Linked DNA regions of Homo sapiens. The protein of the gene in region 1 interacts with the protein of each later gene in a biochemical or structural test. Each region holds a gene or a part of one and is shown in the gene's direction. Other genes may lie near its edges.

The links. The genes of interacting proteins can lie anywhere in the genome.
Region 2: the proteins of CDK11B (region 1) and RANBP9 form a complex in vitro, tested with the Homo sapiens proteins (one study listed by BioGRID).

Annotation. Positions count from the first base shown.
Region 1 is NC_000001.11:1,649,001-1,656,037, reverse strand, and holds part of CDK11B (cyclin-dependent kinase 11B), read left to right. Parts: intron 1-553; coding exon 554-669; intron 670-3,471; coding exon 3,472-3,599; intron 3,600-6,400; coding exon 6,401-6,539; intron 6,540-7,037. UniProt on the Homo sapiens protein: Plays multiple roles in cell cycle progression, cytokinesis and apoptosis. Involved in pre-mRNA splicing in a kinase activity-dependent manner. Isoform 7 may act as a negative regulator of normal cell cycle progression.
Region 2 is NC_000006.12:13,631,818-13,638,854, reverse strand, and holds part of RANBP9 (ran-binding protein 9), read left to right. Parts: intron 1-899; coding exon 900-1,047; intron 1,048-4,302; coding exon 4,303-4,424; intron 4,425-6,333; coding exon 6,334-6,485; intron 6,486-7,037. UniProt on the Homo sapiens protein: May act as scaffolding protein, and as adapter protein to couple membrane receptors to intracellular signaling pathways. Acts as a mediator of cell spreading and actin cytoskeleton rearrangement.

The DNA of each region.
Region 1 (7,037 bases):
TATAAGCAACTAACATACTTGGCATAGAGTCTAATGTCCCTTGTCATATATGCTATTTTTAAATTTCTCATCTCAGGTTTCAGATTACAGAGAGTTGTAATTTTAATGTGATAAGATTTGAATTAAAGTTTGTTTGTTTGTTTGTTTGTTTTCCCTGATACGGAGTCTAACTCTGTCGCCAGGCTGGAGTGCAGTGGTGTGATCTCGGGTCACTGCAATGTCCGCCTCCCGGGTTCAAGCAGTTCCGGTCACTACGCCCAGCTAATTTTTGTATTTTTAGTAGAGATGGGGTTTCACTGTGTTGTCCAGGGTGGTCTCGAGCTCCTGACCTCGTGATCCGCCTGCCTGGGCCTCCCAAAGTGCTGGGATTACAAGCGTGAGCCACCACACCCGGCCAAAAGTTCTTTATATTTTATAACACTGGCTCATTCAGAGTATATATGAAAGTTTGTTTTGGGATGTTGCCCAGGTTTGATTATCATTAAAAATACTTTTATCTATGAAGAAAAAAAAACTTATAAAGAAAATGATTAACTTTCTCTTTGCTTCTTAGTCTGATGACCGGGATTCCAAGCGGGATTCCCTTGAGGAGGGGGAGCTGAGAGATCACCGCATGGAGATCACAATAAGGAACTCCCCGTATAGAAGAGAAGACTCTATGGAAGACAGGTGAGCGGATGTACAGATGTGCAAGACCCAGCTGTACACAGCCCTGGCCTGGCCGGTCCTTCCTAGGGTCGCTGTGACAACTGTGTGCTGTTGTAACTATTAAGGTTTACTCTTTCCTAGAGTTACTGTGACATAGCGTAACTATTGAGGTTTTTATGTCACAGTTGTGACTGACTCTCAAGTGTTGTCTGTGGCCCTCCAGACCCTTGCCCCTTCTTTCTGTAAAGAACTTTGCCATGTGTTACACTGATTAATAAAATATACTATATAGGATTTTGCACAGGCCAGGTGTGGTGGCTCACACTTGTAATCTCAGCACTTTCGGAGGCCAAGGCGGGCTGATCAGCTGAGGTCAGGAGTTCGAGACCAGTCTAGCCAACATGGTGAAACCCCGTCTTAAAAGGAAAAAAAGGCCGGGCGCGGTGGCTCACGCCTGTAATCCCAGCACTTTGGGAGGCCGAGGTGGGCGGATCACAAGGTCAGAAGATCAAGACCATCCTGGCTAACACAGTGAAACCCCGTCTCTACTAAAAATACAGAAAATTAGCCGGGCGTGGTGGCAGGCGCCTTTAGTCCCAGCTACTCGGGAGGCTGAGGCAAGAGAATGGCGTGAACCCAGGAGGTGGAGCTTGCAGTGAGACAAGATCATGTCACTGCACCCCAGCCTGGGCGACAGAGCAAGACCCCGCCTCTAAAAAAAAAAAAAGGAAAAAAAAGATTTTGCACAAATAAAGTAGAATGCTGAAAGATACCTGAGGAGGGCCGCTGATGAGAAATGTTCATATTGGCCGGACGCGGCAGCTCACGCCTGTAATCCCAGCACTTTGGGAGGCCGAGGCAGGCAGATCACTTCAGCCCAGGAGTTCAAGACCAGCCTGGGCAACACAGGGAGACCTCGTCTCTACACAAAATAAAAAAAAGAAGATGAGAAAAACTAAATGAGTTTTCCTGCCATAGCAGGTGCCCCTCATGGTCATCATCAGGGTTTTCAGGGCCTAGCTTCTAAGCACCCCTGACAGAGCCTAGAATAGAGACAAGGAAATGGATGAGACTGGGGTAACAGAGCAAGACCCTGTGTGGAAAAAAAGGAAATGTTCTTGTTGAGACCTGTGTGTTCCGACGTTTCTTCCTGTGCCATGAACTGTTTCTCGTTTGTTTTCTTCTCATATCTAGCTCGTATACGTCATCAGGTATTAGTAATTAAAGGAAACACAGCCAGAAATTACGGTATAATGGTTTTCCTGAGAAGCTTAAGGTGTGAATTTTCCCAGAATTTTGGTGATACAGAAATCAGCTGAAGATACTGTTAAATGACGCTTTGAGATTATGAAGATTGTTTTGTTGTTGTTGTTGTTGCTTTGACACAGAGTCTTACCCTGTCGCCCAGGCTGGAGTGCACTGGCATGATCTCGGCTCACTGCCACCTCCAGCTCCCGGGTTCAAGTGAGTCTCCTGCCTCAGACTCCTGAGTAGCTGGGATTACAGGCATGCGCCACCACGCTCGGGTGTGTGTGTGTGTGTGTGTGTGTGTGTGTGTGTGTGTATTTTTAGTAGAGACGGATTTCACTGTGTGGTCACACTGGTCTTGAACTCCTAACCTCAGGTGATCTACTTGCCTCAGCCTCCCAAAGTGCTGGGATTACTGGCGTGAGCCACTGCACCCAGCCAAAATTGTAGGATCTTTTAACAGATTTATTGGGGAATAAATAACATAAAATGAGCTGCCCTTGTTTAAATATGATGTGAATGGCTGGGTGCAGTAGCTCGCGCCTGTAATCCCAACACTTTGAGAGACTGAGGCAGGTGGATCACCTGAGGTCAGGAGTTCAAGATCAGCCTGGCCAACATGGTGAAAGCCCGTCTCTACTACAAATACAAAAATTAGCCTGGCATGGTAGTGTACACCTGTAGTCACAGCTACTCAGGAGGCTGAGGCAGGAGAATTGCTTGAACCTGGGAGGCAAAGGTTGCAATGAGCCAAGATTGTGCCTCTGCACTCTAGGCTGGGGGAAAGAGCGAGATTCTATCTGAAAAAAATAAAAATAAAGCTGGGTGCGGTGGCTCACACCTGTAATCCCAGCACTTTGGGAGGCCGAGGTGGGTGGATCATGATGTCACAAGTTTGAGACCAGCCTGACCAATATGGTGAAACCCCGTCTCTACTAAAAATAAAAAAATTAGCCGGGTGTGGTGGCGCATGCCTGTAATCCCAGCTACTCCTTAGGCAGAGGCAGGAGAATTGCTTGAACCTGGGACTGGAAGGGGAGGTTGCAATGAGCCGAGATCGTACCACTGCATTCCAGCCTGGGCAACAGAGCGAGACTCCGTCTCAAAAAAATAAATACAGGCCGGGCGCAGTGGCTCACGCCTGTAATCCCAGCACTTTGGGAGACCGAGGTGGGCGGATCATGAGGTCAGGAGACCAAGACCATCCTGGCTAACATGGTAAAACCCCGTCTCTACTAAAAATACAAAAATTAGCCAGCGTGGCGGCGGGCGCCTGTAGTCCCAGCTACTCGGGAGGCTGAGGCAAGAGAATGGCATGAACCCGGAGGGTGGAGATTGCAGTGAGCCGAGATCGTGCCACTATAGCCCGGGCAACAGAGCGAGACTGTCTAAAAAAAAGAAAAAAAGAAAAAAAAGATGCCTAAAGTTGGAGAATTAATGTAATTTTTTAAATGATGTTTCAGCTTTGTTCCTGTCTGAATCATGCATTTTTCTGGGTTGAAGAAACCTTATAATAGCCTGATGCTTCTTTGCACTTTCTCAAGCATGATGCAGTGCTGTTGTGTTTTATTTCAGAGGAGAAGAAGATGATTCTTTGGCCATCAAACCACCCCAGCAAATGTCTCGGAAAGAAAAAGCTCATCACAGAAAAGATGAAAAGAGAAAAGAGAAACGTAGGCATCGTAGCCATTCAGCAGAAGGGGGTACAGAAGCATTTACTTTCTTTGACATCATGTTCAAGTGTGGTTTCTTTCCTGTTCCTACTCTTCTGCCTTCCCCAGAGCACCACTGAAAAACCAGAGAAAGCAAACTCTAGCTGAAAGCATACGTGTGTCACAGACCGTTCAGAATGGCTATAGAGAGAATACTCTAGCTAAAAGCATGCGTGCGTCACAGACCGAAAACCAGAGAGAGCAAACTCTAGCTGAAAGCATGCGTGTGTCACAGACCGAAAACCAGAAAGAGCAAACTCTAGCTGAAAGCGTGCGTGTGTCACAGACCATTCAGAATGGCTATAGAGAGAATAGCTGAAAGCATGCATGTGTCACAGACCGTTCAGAAGGGCTATGAGAGCAAACTAACTAAAAGCATGCGTGTGTCACAGACCAAAAACCAGAGAGAGCAAACTCTAGCTGAAAGCACGCGTGTGTCACAGACCATTCAGAAGGGCTATACAGAGCAAACTCTAGCTAAAAGCATGTGTGTGTCACAGACTAAAAACCAGAGAGAGCAAACTCTAGCTGAAAGCATGCATGTGTCACAGACCATTCAGAAGGGCTATACAGAGCAAACTCTAGCTAAAAGCATGCGTGTGTCACAGACCAAAAACCAGAGAGAGCAAACTCTAGCTGAAAGCGTGCGTGTGTTACAGACCATTCAGAAGGGCTATAGAGAGAATACTCTATCTGAAAGCATGCGTGTGTCACAGACCATTCAGAGGGGCTATAGAGAGCAAACTCCAGCTGAAAGCATGCGTGTGTCACAGACCGTTCAGAAGGGCTATACAGAGCAAACTCTAGCTAAAAGCATGCATGTGTCCCAGACCGAAAACCAGAGAGAGCAAACTCCAGCTGAAAGCATGCGTGTGTCACAGACCATTCAGAAGGGCTATAGAGAGAGTACTCTAGCTGAAAGCGTGCATGTGTCACAGACCATTCAGAGGGGCTATAGAGTACTCTAGCTGAAAGCATGCGTGTGTCACAGACCGTTCAGAGGGGCTACAGAGAGCAAACTCCAGCTGAAAGCATGCGTGTATCACAGACCGAAAACCAGAGAGAGCAAACTCTAGCTGAAAGCGTGCGTGTGTCACAGACCATTCAGAATGGCTAGTCCATTTTTCCTCTGGGGTTTTCTCTCCCCCATTATATTGTTTGGAAGCAGTTTGTTTACATTTAAAATGACCTGAATTCAACAAGTATAGGAGAAAAACACACCCCAAAATGGGTATTTGCTCAAGTCCAAAGAATGGGTTTGGCTTGAGCAGTTTGATCTCGTACCAACATCAGGAGGTTCTTACGGGTGTTAGGAAAATTGGACCTGGAGCCCGATTGAAATGTCATGATTATAAATACACTTGATTAATTAATGTGGCTTCATTGCACAGTGGAGAAGCCCACTGATAGCAAAGCTTTGTTCTGTAGTCTTTGTGAAGAGTGATTTTTGTATTATAAAACTGATAATTATAGTTTATTCAGTATGGAAAAGTTTTAAAAGACGAATATTACAATTCTGCTCTTCTGTGATAGCAGAATTGTTTTTCTTTTTTCTTCTTTCTTCATAATTAGACGCTTACTGCAGATAGTTTTTTATTTTCAAAGTTTTTTATTTAACATAAAATCATGATTATTCGGCTGGGTGCAGTGGCCCAGGCCTGTAATCCCAGCACTTTGGAGGATCAATTGAGTCCGGGAGTTCAAGACCAGCCTGGCCAATATAGCGAGACCCTGTCTCTTTAAAAAAAAAAAAAAAAAAAAAAAAGGCCGGGCGCGGTGGCTCACAACTGTAATCCCCACACTTTGGGAGGCCGAGGCCGGCAGATCACGAGGTCAGAACATCAAGACCATCCTGGCTAACATGGTGGAACCCCGTCTCTACTAAAAAGACAAAAAATTAGCCGGGCGTGGTGGCAGGCGCCTGTAGTACCAGCTACTCGGGAGGCTGAGGCAGGAGAATGGTGTGAACACGGGAGGCGGAGCTTGCAGTGAGCCGAGATTGCGCCACTGCACTCCAGCCTGGGCGACAGAGCAAGACTCCATCTCCAAAAAAAAAAAAGAAAAAAAAGAAAAATTAGGATTACTTAACGTTAACATCATTATTTAAATATTTATTTAAATATTTACTGTTCTTGATTTAATTTCTTTTTTTTTTTTTTTTGGGACGGAGTCTTGCTTGTCACCCAGGCTGGAGTACAGTGGCGCAATCTCAGCTCACTGCAAATTCCATCTCCTGGGTTCACGCTATTCTCCCGCCTCAGCCTCCCGAGTAGCTGGGACTACAGGTGCCCGCCACCACACCCAGCTAATTTTTTGTATTTTTAGTAGAGATGGGGTTTCACCGTGTTAGCCAGGATGGTCCCGATCTGACCTTGTGATCCGCCCACCTCGGCCTCCCAGAGTGCTGGAATTACAGGCGTGAGCCACCGCGCCCGGTCTTAATTTCAGTTTCACGTGGGTTTTTTTTTTTTTTTTGCCCAGGCTGTAGTGCAGTGGCGTGATCTCGGCTCACTGCAACCTCCGCCTCCCGGGTTCAAGCAATTCTTCTGCCTCAGCCTCGCTTAGTAGCTGGGATTACAGGTGCCTGCCACCACGCCCAGCTAATTTTTGTATTTTTAGTAGAGACGGGGTTTCACCATGTTGGCCAGGATGGCCTTGAACTCCTGACCTCAGGTGATCCGCCCGCCTCAGCCTCCCAAAGTGCTAGGATTACAGGCATAAGCCTCCGTGCCCGGCTTCATGTGAAATTTTTGAAGTGAGGTTTCTTTGCATGACACTTTATTTCTCATTAGGGAAGCATGCTAGAGTGAAAGAAAAAGAAAGAGAGCACGAACGTCGGAAACGGCATCGAGAAGAACAGGATAAAGCTCGCCGGGAATGGGAAAGACAGAAGAGAAGGGAGATGGCAAGGGAGCATTCCAGGAGAGAAAGGTGAGTCGGCTGGGTCAGTTGAGGACTTTATAAAAGGGCTGTGGTAGTGTGTCCCATCCTAGAAATGAAGAAGAATTTGGCAATAGAAGTCACATCTGAGCCAGGTGTGGTGGCTCACGCCTGTAATCCCAGCACTTTGGGAGGCCGAGGTGGGCGGATCATGAGGTGAGGAGATGGAGACCATCCTGGCTGACATGGTGAAACCCCGTCTCTACTAAAAAAATACAAAAAATTAGCTGGGCATGGTGGCGGGCACCTGTAGTCCCAGCTACTTGGGAGGCTGAGGCAGGAGAATGGCGTGAACCCGGAAGGTGGAGCTTGCATTGAGCTGAGATCCCGCCACTGCACTCCAGCCTGGGCGACAGAGCGAGACTCCGTCTCAAAAAAAAAAGAAGAAGTCACATTTGGTGCAGAAGTGGTAGACATGGAAACAGCACAGTGAACGCTGGACGAGGCTGACCAAGAGAACTGTCCTGAGGGAGTGAGTTTTCACTGCAT
Region 2 (7,037 bases), on another chromosome or scaffold:
CAACCTTTCCCAACCAAGCCTCTTGCAAAAGTCAGCTCTGCCTAGTTCGTTTTCTCCCATCCGTTTGTTGGCTCACCAGTCTTACTCTCTGTGACTTTGGGCTTTCTCTTAATTAAAATTCTCTCCTTTCTTGGCTTTTGTGACATCACTTCTACAGGTTTTTTTGGTTTTGTTTTTGTTTCTTTTTAAAGAGTTGGAGTCTCGCAATGTTTCTGATGCTGGTCTCAAACTCCTGGCCTCAAGCACTGCTCCTGCCTCAGCCTCCCAAAGTGCTGGGCTTACAGGTGTGAGCTACCGTGCCCAGCCACAGATTTATTTCTGATGCTTCTCAGTCTTCTGTTTGCCCATCTCTTTAATTCTGCATTTCCCAAGATGTTATCTTTGTACATTTAACATTCTTAAACAAGTCAGATAGTGTCTCCTTTCCTTTCATGAAGTAACACCATTGCTTTTTCTTATTTCAATTTATTCTCTTTTCTGCATTACTTCCTCTCAGTTTATTTACATCACCACTCTGTACAACAAGTGTGATTCCCATGTCTGTTCTTAGCCACTACTCCTCTTGAATATCATACAGTCACTTCAGGCTTGGATAAATTCTGAGCCTCAGTGTATTCATATGTAAAATGGGGATGATCATAATATTGCCATTTTAGGGGGATTTTGAGGATTAAATGAGATGTGTAATTAAGCCTTCAATAAATGTTAGATGAGGTAATAATTAAGATCTCACAATTAAGTATTCTTAGTATCCTTTCAAAGAAGTTACCTGTTTACATCATCCATTGACTCTCCTACGTTCTAGAAGTCTTAGTACAAAATCAACATGGAGACTTGTTTACAACCGTATTAATAAATTAGTGTTTGTTTCTGTTTCTACGTGGTATCTTTTTCTTCAGGTTTTGAAAGTTGTAGTAATGGTGTAATATCAAATAAAGCACATCAATCATATTGCCATAGTAATAAACACCAGTCATCCAACTTGAATGTACCAGAACTAAACAGTATAAATATGTCAAGATCACAGCAAGTTAATAACTTCACCAGGTAAGTAATTTCACTGACTTTTGCACTAATATAAGCAACCTAGTTATAGGTGTAATCGTTGTAATAATTTTGAAAGAACTTGAATTATGTGACCCACAGAGGGGCTCTGGGAGTTCTTAAGCCCCCAGAGAATAAAAGCGTAGGGAGTCAGTTCCCCAAAGCTTTTTAGTCTCCTATTATGCACATGAGCTCTTTCCTTAGTTTCTTCCTCTTCTCTACTACCTTCTTCCCTCTAGTAAAGTTATAAGGACAAATTCAGGGCTTCATGCATTGTCTTCCTGCCAGCCACAGAGCTATACAAATGATCACATAAATGCCATTTGTTATGTTTTCACAGTGGTTAAGACACAGTAGCATATTTAACCTTGAACGGTGACATAAGATAAATTTACAACTGATTTTTTCTCTGTGTGTGAGTTTTTTTTGGTGTAAATGTGTAGAATGTTTTCCAAGTTCAAAACTAACTTTACAAATAATCTTTTTTGAAAGCCTGCCTTTAAGTAGCTTGCATATAGCAGATGGTTAAGTCATTTAGTAAACATTGGTGTGAGGATGGTTTTGAGGATTTGTTGGGCACCAAACATTCTGCTAGGTAGGGTGTCTCACTTTGAAGAGGTTTGAAAGATGATATCTCAGTCAGTGTACTATGACCCTTGATATACTCAGGTTTAATATTTATGAAACCTAAAAGTTCATGAAGTGACATTATTTGAATTAAATACTACTGTGCAGTAGCAAATTATTGTGAATTCACCCTGCCCAAATCATCCAGGACTGGGTCAATTTAATATTGGTTTGGTCTATAACAAACCAGTTGGTTACATTGCATTTTCAGGAAATGGTCATCAGTGCCACATTTTCTTATTAAAGGAGAGAGAGCCTAACTTTTAGCATGGAATCTTAATGGAAATATGATTTTGCAGAAAGGATTGTATGTAAAAAAAAATCTGTATTTGAAAATTGGGAGATTAATCTCAATTTCTGGGTTGTCTGTCACACGTGACAAAAATTTACTGAAGTAATAGTGTGTGTGATTGATATAAGTTGTAATGGAGAACCACAAAAGTGTATGAGAAGAGCAGAAAAATCGTCTTTCACAGCAGAGGTGATATATTGGAAAATATAAAATCAAAATATTATAGTTTAAAAATAGATGGAAATGTAAAAAGTTAAGTACTTCATCATGCTTTATACTAAATGCATTGGTACTTTATCATTGATCAAGGCTCTTGCCAATGTTTGAGGGTAAGATTGCAGTCAGTTTGTGAGTTTTTCTCTTGAATACTATCCCTACAGCAGGAAGTTGCTAAACAGATCTATTATTACCTGAGTTCAGGGAAGCAAGCTTAACGGAAGGGTCTGATGACACAACATCCTCCTTTGTCTGCAGTATAAAAGGGAAAGAAAGTCAACTTTGAACTGCCTTAAGCTATAAGTTATTTTGTAGTTGGTAATGGCTTTCCTAACTGTGAAGTAGGCAAAGATGGTATTAACTATTTAAACCATTTTACAGATGTAGAGCGGGATATCAGAAAAGTAAATGACTTTTTTTTCTTAAGGTCAATTATTAGTAGCTAGTAAGTTGCAGAGCTGAGGCTGCGTTTCAGGATTTGACTTGCAAACTTGTGCTTTTTCCCTGATACCGCCCACCATCTGAAATGCTCTTCTTCCTACCCTCCCTCACCTCCAGTATAACTTCTGTCCAGGCTGAGAAAATTCAAGTTCAGATGTCAGTTCTTCCAGGATGTTTTCCTTGATTTACATCCCATCAAATATGTCATGTTTTGTGATTAACTTCCATCATAGTACTGATCATAATTACTCTGTAATATAATAACTTAATTAGCTTTTTATAGGTTGTTTGCTACAGGAAGGCAGAGGCTGTTTCATAATATCCTTAGCACCTAACAGGGATCATACCTCAGAGGCTCTTAAATGTGTGTTAAATGAACGAGTTCCTTCCAAATACTAAACTGAGTTATCAAAAAAAAAAAAAAAGTTTAGTATTTTTTAAAAAGCCACTGAAAGCTGTGATGGTAAGGATTTTCTTATTCTTAAAGTTTGGTTTTTCTTACCAATTTTCGAAGTTTGTTAAGATTATAAACAAGCTTTCCTGGTTGAGTAAGTCTGCTCTGGAGTCGTAGGGCCATATCCCCCTTTTCCCTAGATCTCTTGTTTTTTTTTTTTTTACCTTAACAATTTTACTAACAGGAGTGTATGCATGCACACACACACCCCCAAGGTGTTAGAATTTGTTACCTCTGGTGGTATTACGCATAGTGGTTTTTGCTCATCTGTGTTTTTTTTTCTACAATTGAATATATATTGCTTTTGTAATGAGAAATGTCATTTTTATCTAAGCATTACCTAAAATTTCATCGAGTGTTTACTTCTAGATTGTATAATTATTACCTAGGCTTCCATAGGATAAATCCTAAAGATTAGATATTTATTGTTGCTTATAAGAGTGCGGATGGTTCTGAAGGACATACATTGACAGCTTAAATATGTGCAAATATAGTTATTGGCAGATAGATATTCATTGAGTGGAATGAGTGAAAACTGGAAACTATCCAGGACATCAGTTTAAAAGTTAAGATTCAGCAATACTTTAGCCAATAAGATAGCCTGTGAGTTCACTCTCTGTCGTGTGGTGAAAAGGGATGAGAGAATGAAGCTCAATCATTTTTTAAGTTATCAGTTACCCTTGAAAGAATGTATATTTTTAAGTAGTGAGGACAAATGCCAGAATGCTATTTAAAAACAGCCTAGGAGTGGATTGAGTATGAGGTCCGGAACGAGGTGAAGCGGGTTCCAGGAGTGAGATGTATTTGTTTTGAGAGTGAGGTTTTCCCCTTACATACTAGAAATCAGTGCTGGGGGTAGGGGGAGAGGGCTGGCTGGGGAGTTGGTGGGGCAGCAGTTGATTAACGAAGACGTACAGATCTGAATTTGAAAAATAATAGGATTGTGTGGAAGTATGATTTCTCCATATTGATGTAAAGTCATAAAACCACTACATTTTAGCATATGTACTTTTTTTCCTCCCTTACCTCCGGGGGTACAAATTTGTTAAAAGTCAGCGACATGTTTGGCTTTGAATACGTTCAAGATTTAACTAAATACCTTTTTTGCAGATTTCTGTTGCCTTATGAAATTAGTTTATTCGTAGGCTATGTAGTTCAGTAGTGATTTATTTTAAACTAAGCTGCAAGTATGATATTTCTAAAATTAGGTTTGTTTTTTCGTTTTCAGTAATGATGTAGACATGGAAACAGATCACTACTCCAATGGAGTTGGAGAAACTTCATCCAATGGTTTCCTAAATGGTAGCTCTAAACATGACCACGAAATGGAAGATTGTGACACCGAAATGGGTCTGCAGTGATATTTCTTACATTTTTAATAAAAAATGATGGCTACAAGGTTATGTTTTTACTTGTACTGATTCACAGCTGATGAGCATAAACCAGATTTAAAGATGTATGTGCTGTAGGACTTGACAGTAATGCATAGCACTTAAACTCTTGTTTGAGTGGGCTGCTAGAGAAAGTAGAGTTACCTTTCAGCTACAGGCAGTGTTTCTTGCTGAACTGCTTAGGCTCAGGTTTAGCGCTGTCACTAATGCAGCAGTACTGACTTACTGGTGTTGAGCCTCTAGGCTATTTTAGGTTGGAGATGATAGAACTTCTTATATTTATGTCAGTATAGTCAGTAAGGCCAAATGGTTAGATGATTTTACAAATTTCTAATCAGTATTTCTTAAATGAGTTTAACGTAAACGTGTGTGACTTTGCATAGTACTATCCCTGGTATATAGTAGGTGCTTAAGTATGACCTCCCTCACCAAAAAAAAAAACCCCACCACCAACAAAAAAATTATGTGGCTCCAAGACACATTAGCATGCATAATTTTATTTTGTAGACAACTTAAGTAGTAAATTGCCTGTCCCATCAGCAAACTATCCCATCAAATGGAGAGTGAAAATTTATTTGTTGGATTACATTTTTTCATTTATTTGTTGGAATTCCATGGCAATGTTAGATTTCTTATTATTTTGAGATTGAGTGGTATTACTAAAATTGTTTTTTAAAAAGAAATGCAGCTTTGTTTTACTCTTCAATATCAGCCACCTCAGTTTCTGAAGAGTAATTTAAGTACAGTGATAAAGAGCAGGAGTTCTAGAGCCAGATTACATAGATTTGATTTCTGCAAAACTGCCATTTACTAGCTGTGTGACCTTGGAAAAATTACTTAACTGCTCTGTGTCTCAGTTTCTTCATCTGTAAAATGGGTATAATAACGACCTCATAAGTTATTGTGAAAGTAAATGAATAATCCAAAAAGCTAATAGCACAAAGTGCTTGGGAAATATTAACCATCATCATCGTCATTACCTTATTTTTAATGACTTATAAGTAATTTATACAGTTAAATTATTTTATCAATCAAGATATATAAAACTATTTTCTTAGCTGGGCATGGTGGCTCACGCCTGTAATCCCAGCACTTTGGGAGGCCGAGGTGGGCGGATCACAAGGTCAGGAGTTTGAGACCAGCCTGACCAATATGGTGAAACCCCATTTCTACTAAAAAATACAAAAATTAGCCAGGCATGATGGCGCGTGCCTGTAATCCCAGCTACTCAGGAGGCTGAGGCAGGAGAATTGCTTGAACCTGGGAGGCAGAGGTTCCAGTGAGCTGGGATCACACCACTGCACTCCAGCTTGGGTGACAGAGTGTGAGACTCCATCCAAAAAAAAAAAAAATTATTTTTTCAAAGTGGTATTTTTCTAAAAGTAGTGCATTTAATCTTTTCAGTTAGTATAATATGCTGTCTTCTGTATTTTTATTGTAGTCATTTAGCTTTTCTTAGCTTTCAGGAGCATTTTATTACATCTCTACTACGTCAGTTAAGGCAGCCTGAGTGGCATTATTAACAGTTTTCCTTTTTTTTTTTTTTTTTTTAAATGTTGCTTAATGTAGTTTTAGGGAATTATACTTTTTCTAAAATTTTTTTCTGACATAAGTACCCTCTAACACTGAAAGGTTGTCCCCTCTCAACTGCATGCTGAATACTGGATCCTAGACTCTTGAGAGCTAAATAAAGTATATCTTTTAGCTGCAGTTTCATATTAAAAATGAATTTTTAACAATCTGCATATTTAGATGAAATATTAGGGAATAGTTACTAAATGTACAAAATGGTATAAGAAATGTATGTTCGTGTCCTCATTATACTCCATTCCATAAGGTAGTAAAATACTTGTCTGTTTTTCTTACAGAAGTTGATTCAAGTCAGTTGAGACGCCAGTTGTGTGGAGGAAGTCAGGCCGCCATAGAAAGAATGATCCACTTTGGACGAGAGCTGCAAGCAATGAGTGAACAGCTAAGGAGAGACTGTGGCAAGAACACTGCAAACAAAAAAATGTTGAAGGTGAATATATTTTTTCTTGAAAAATTATGAATATGTCAGAGGAACTAAAATGTAGTTTTGTGAAACACTGAGCAGTGTACCAGAAATTCTTGTTAGGGAACTGGGACCTGACCTTCCCCCTGGCTCCTTGCCCATCTGAGAGTGGAAATATTTGATGAAGTTAGGCAGTTCTGATCTACTGGAAAGAGCATTGGACTAAAGCAAAAAAAAAAAAAAAAAAAAAAAAAAAAAAAAAAAAAAAAAAAAAAAAAGGATTAAATCCCAGTGCTAGTGCTTATCAACATTGTGTGTCCTCGTTAACTTAGTTTCTTAGTTTTATTTTCTCAGCTGTAAAATCAGCAGTTACTAGGAGCAATGTGGGCGTGCAGATAAAACTATAGGTCTGAGATCTCATTTTAGTAAATGTTGTTCAGGTTTATAGCATTTTGGATGTATAACACATGGTTCTCATTTTGATGGGAATTAGTGAAGAATTGGGTCACTTTTCATGGCCAGAATAGTTAAAATACATTTTAAAGTCTCTTCTGGATTGTTGTCCATGAGCTGATAGGA